2 separate regions of the Homo sapiens genome follow, and region 2 is linked to region 1. The links come from fine-mapping of genetic effects on gene expression. Tissue or cell type: blood mononuclear cells. Region 1 holds a variant in brackets; the other region holds the start of a gene. All regions are shown on one strand. Distances are from middle to middle.

Region 1 (2,687 bases):
TTTAGAAATAATGACACTTAAGAACACTTAAGTTTAGAAATAAGGACCCTTAAGATCACAAATAACCAATGTTCACTGAAAGTTTACTCTGTAAAAAAAGCATGAGACATGGACCGTGTCCTCCGGAACCCAAAAATCTATCCTCAGCTTTTGTCAGCACTCAACCTACCAGTCTCCCTGGGCAATCTCAACCACTACAGTGGTTTCAGCTGCCTTCTATGCCAATGCCTTCTGAATCTACTGTTCCAGCTAGGACTATACCTGAGACTCAAACCCAATATCCCACTGCCTCCATCACAGTAAAACAGAAAGAAGATGGGTTTTGGAGCTAGACAATATTGGCTCTGACGCTAATTAGCTACATGACTACAAATAAGTAAATTAACCTCTCAGATACTTGGTTTCTCCCTTTATACAATGATGATAATAAATCATACCTTGTAGAGATGCTATGAGAATTCAAAATACAGGCAACCAACCACAAACATAATAACCACAAACTTTATTAAGACAACACAACTCCCTCAACACTGCTCTTGATAACCACTTAGCAGCAGTGTGCTCCTCTGCTTCCCAAGGCCCCATGAAACTTCCCCTAGTATATAGCACTCAGAGTTCTAGAGGCATTCATATATACCAGATAGGTTAAGGGACATTTTCAAGAGTGACCATCCTGATTATTAATGCAGTTCAAAGTCCTTAGAGCAATGAAAACTTGAGTGAAATTCACCAGGGAAACAGTAGAGGCTTCACTGGCCTCCTATTTTTAGATGGCTCAGTCAGTTCAGCCTATGCGGAAAAATTCCCCAAAGGCAGTTACAACGCAGCTTATTTTAAGTAATCGGTTTTTGAAACTTAAAACAAATGTTTTATACATACTTGATATACCTTTTGTGACGAATTTTGATTTTTTTAATGGTACGAAATTCCAGGAAGGCAATAACAGTGGTTATCATTATAGTTCCTGGAGTCCCATAGGCAGGGTTCAAATCCCAATTTAACAACATCTTTGCTGTGTGACTTTAACTTCTCTACGCCTCAGATCCCTCATCTATGGAATAAAGGTAAAGTACCTAGCTCTTAAAGCTATTATGAAGATTAAACAAAAGAATCCACATCAAAGCACATTGCTCAGTGCTTCCTATAACACATTATTGCACTTTATTGTTTACTTGTTTAACTCCCTCTACTGAAGTGTCCTGAAGGCAGGACTCTGTCTTATTTGAATCCCCAGCGCCTAGCACAGTACCAGGGGCAAATGACTTGAGAAATGAATGAATGAGCTCAAAATACAACATGAGGTTTCCACTGCTAGGTGCCAATTGAATGTGTGATACACATCAGGCATCTTAGTGGATCTTCTTAGACATCCAGACAACCAGGGTCCACCCAAGACCTACTGAATAAGAATGGCCAAGAGTGGGGCCTAGGGATCTGTATTCTTTTAAGTGCCACAGCTGACTTCTTTCATTTTATTTTTTATTATGGAAACTTTCAAGCATACAAAAGAAGTAAAGAATATGCTGGGCACAGTGGCTCATGCCT[A/G]TAATCTCAACACTTTGGGAGGTCAAGGCAGGCAGATCTCTCGAGGCCACAAGTCCAAGACCAGCCTGGCCAACATGGTGAAATCCCATCTCTACTAAAAATACAAAAACTAGCTGGGCATGGTGGTGCATGCCTGTAAACCCAGCTCCTACTTGGGAGGCTGAGGCATGAGAATCGCTTGAACCTGGGAGGCAAGAGGCAGAGGTTGCAGTGAGCCGAGATCGCACCACTATATTCCAGCCTGGGTGACAGAGCAAGACTCTGTCTCAAACAACAACAAAAAGAAGAATATAATTAACTTCCATGTGCTCTTCATCCAAATTCAAATAACAACATTCTGCCATCCTCCACAACTCATTCTATGTGTACCAAAGGTTAGTCAGCAATGTTGACAGAGATAATAATACCTGAGTTTACAACAAGGAGAGAGAGCTCATCCAGCTAGGAGGTCAAGGAAGGCTACAGAGAGAGGGTAGGATTTGAGATGGGTATAGAAGAATGTGTTTATGACTTTAATGGAAGAAGAAGAAGAAGGAGGAGGAGAAGGAGAAGGAGAAGCGGGGGAGGAGGGGGGAGGAGGGGGGAGGAGGGGGAGGAGGGGGAGAAGAAGGAGAAGAAGAAGGACATTTTTGATCTAGGGAAAGGTAGAATCAAAGGTAAGTCAGGTCAGTTGTTACAGAGACCATTTCCTTTAAAATCTTTATACCAATTATTTCTCGAAATCTACTCTCCATCTTGAGCTGCCTACAACACACCTCCTTCTTTGCTGTCAACTAATATTTCAATCCCAATTTCCCTGTATCTCCGCTTTCTCCCCAAACTGGCTGGTCTTCTCGACCTTTCAATGTCTATTAGTGGTACTAATATTCTCCTACTTTTTAAGCTCAGATACTTGGGACCCAAAGTACTTTTCACTTCTACTCTCCAACTTTCAATTCTGTAGCCTGCCAATGGTTCTCTACAGTGCTTCTGAATTTAATCCTTTCTCTTTGCCAGGGACTCTTCCCCTCATATCTGAACTACTACAGCAGTGCTGGCTGGTCTCTGTGCCTCCAGCTACCCTGTACTCACTGATTAGTTCTCCAAGGATCCCACTGTCAGCAGACCACAGTAACTTCCTACAATGACTTCCTATTGACAAC
Region 2 (2,687 bases), 47 kb after region 1:
AGTAATTTCTGGGGGTTTTTGGGTTTGCTGTTTATAGATGGGCTCTGGAGTAACAAACATGGATGACTTGTGGGAGCCCTCAGACACTGATGGAACTGTCACATGGTGAGTTGGCTCTACTGACTGTACCCCTGGGGAGATGGTGACCCTGCGGCCAACCTCGCTGTTTCCTCGGATTGGGGTCCTCACGTTGGACTCCACCTGTGATGATACTAAGACCTTTGCGGAGGGCTTGGTTTCAGGATAGGCAGAATACTTATGAAGAGACTCAGGGTCTACCCGTGCAGAAACTCGGTGTACACCATCAGAATCTTTAAGGACAGAGAGTTTGAGCAATGAGTCCAAGTTCATATTCCTATACAAGGCCTTGGGTTTTGAAGGAATTGGACCGTAAGGACCTGTTTCTGATTCTTCTACAGGGACCCTTCTCTGGGCTGTCTGATAGTCTGCAGAGACACAGCTGCTTCCGTGCTCTAGGAGAGAGGGACTCCTTGGAGATCTGATCTCACTAGTAGTCGTAATTCTTTGGATGGGCTCAGTTTGTACTGCTTCATCCTTTGGGTAAGACAAAATCCTACGGGGAACTCTGACTCCTTGGGGGTTCTGGACCTTGGATGGTGGGTCATCTTCTAAGATTTGTGATTGTAAGTTATTCTTCTGGTCTTGAAAACTCAACTGATGAGTAGATTTGGCATCTGGGATTGATGAAGCATGATGGCCGACCTCGCGCCCTGACTTGCTCTCACTGCCTCTTCGTGCTGCTTCCTCTCTGGGTGGACTAACTTTCCATTGTCTGCTTGAAGCATGGGAAGCCAGTGTCTGAGTCTTCTGGCTCTTTAGATGGGGAGAGGAATGGCGGGATGATTCTGTTCTTGGTCCAGTCTCGGGTCCCCGAGGAGTGGGTACTGCATAGTGTCCAGGTCCTGACTGGAGGGAGACAGATCGAGGGTAGTCTGATGCTGAATGGGGAGTGGTGGGATGTGCAGCTTCTGATCTTCGGTGGGAAGGGTTCAGGGAGACTGCAGCACTTCGATGGCTTGAGGCAAGAACGTACCCATGTCCCTGCTGAGGGGATGTGTTAGTAGTAACCTCAGACCCTCTCTGTGCTGAAACCGCTACCTTGGCCCCAGGTTTATTTGTCTTGACCATCTGATAGATTGTGCCCTTCTGAGTAGATCCCGTATTTTACTGGCTGGCTTGTATTCAGGATCCTAATGATGCCTGAATATTTACCCTGTTTTAAAGCTGCTGTTTCTTGGGCTCCCACAAAAGTGGCTGTTGTTCTAAGAGTGTCTCAAATAATCCCCTTAGCTACCTCTCTGTCTGGTGATGTCATAAAGGAAGGAGCTTCCTTCCTATTAAACATCCTAGTGTACAGCCACAATTCTTCACAGAATCCCAAAGAAGTACCTGAAAGGAATCTGTGGATTTGTCTTTGGAGTTATATCACCAAGCCTTTGGCAAGTTTTTAACAAAACTGGGATTTCCTTGTACATAGAGAAGGCTCCAGACCCTCCTTTACTCTCCCGAGATTCTAGAAATTCTCAGGACTCATCCAGAGAAGGAATCAGCCAGAAGATCCTATGAAGACAAGATCAAACCAAACACGCTGTGTTCGCCCCAGTTTTAATAAGGTACGAAGTACAAAGTTGCCCCAATTTTGTTTGAAACTGTACTGTATACAAGTTAAAAAAAAAAAAAAAAAGAGAGCTTCAGCTTTTTCCAGGTCTCATGGATTGTTTCATTGCTCCTGGGGTAAAAATCCAGGTTGCTCAAATAATAAAATTCTCACATTCTTGCTCCAGGAGAGTTTAGTGTTTTATTAATAAAAGGGATTTGCCATGTGCGGTGGCTCACGCCTGTAATCCCAGCACTTTGGGAGACCGAGGCGGGTGGATTGCCTGAGGTCAGGAGTTTGAGGCCAGCATGGCCAGCATGATAAAACCCCGTCTTTACTAAAAATACAAAAAAATTAGCCAGGCATAGTGGCAGGCACCTATAATCCCAGCTACTCAGGAGGCTGAGGCAGGAGAATCGCTTGAACCCGGGAGTTGGAGGTTGCAGTGAGCTGAGATTGTGCCACTTTACTCCAGCCTGGGTGACAAGAGCAAAACTCCATCTCAAAAAATATATATAAATAAAAACAAAATAAAAGGGATTTGGGCTGGGTGCAGTGGCTCACACCTGTAATCCCAGCACTTTGGGAGGCTGAGGCGGGTGGATCACCTGAGGTCAGGAGTTTGAGACCAGCCTGGCCAACATGGTGAAACCCCATCTCTACTAAAAATACAAATATTAGCCAGGCGTGGTGGTGCGTGCCTGTAATCCCAGCTACCCGTGAGGCTGAGGCACGAGAATCGCTGGAACCTGGGAGGCGGAGGCTGCAGTGAGCTGAGATCGTGCCACTGCACTCCAGGCTGGGTGACAGAGCAAGACTCCATCTCAAAAAAAAAAAAAAAAAAGAAAGAAAGAAAGAAAGAAGGAATTTGGAGTTAATCATTGGTTTCCATCATAAATGACTACAGGTGTACCTAGGAGAAATTACCTGCCTTCCCTGGGACTTGGTTTCTTCACCTGGAAACCACTGCCTGGTACATGGGTGTCACACAACAAATGTTAATGTCCTTTCTCATGATCCTGTCAGCTATCCAATCAGCCGGACTCCGGTTCTCTCTTGAAAAGTGACT

The links. PIP is the estimated chance that this variant, and not a neighbour inherited with it, causes the effect.
Region 2: SEPTIN4 starts here. The variant in region 1 is fine-mapped to the expression of SEPTIN4 in blood mononuclear cells (TOPMed, PIP 0.97).

Annotation. Positions count from the first base shown.
Region 1 is chr17:58,496,425-58,499,111 of GRCh38, forward strand. All of the region lies in intron 14 of MTMR4 (myotubularin related protein 4), which reads right to left. Among named protein-coding and RNA genes, the nearest start is that of HSF5, 9.4 kb to the left of the region's middle. The variant A/G (reference allele first, on the strand shown) is at 1,546.
Region 2 is chr17:58,543,038-58,545,724 of GRCh38, forward strand. It overlaps SEPTIN4 (septin 4), which reads right to left and starts at 1,291. Exons shown (of 14, transcript NM_001368771.2): 1 at 1-1,291. The coding sequence starts at 1,149. It overlaps SEPTIN4-AS1 (SEPTIN4 antisense RNA 1), which reads left to right. Exons shown (of 5, transcript NR_110810.1): 3 at 420-561; 4 at 1,499-1,634.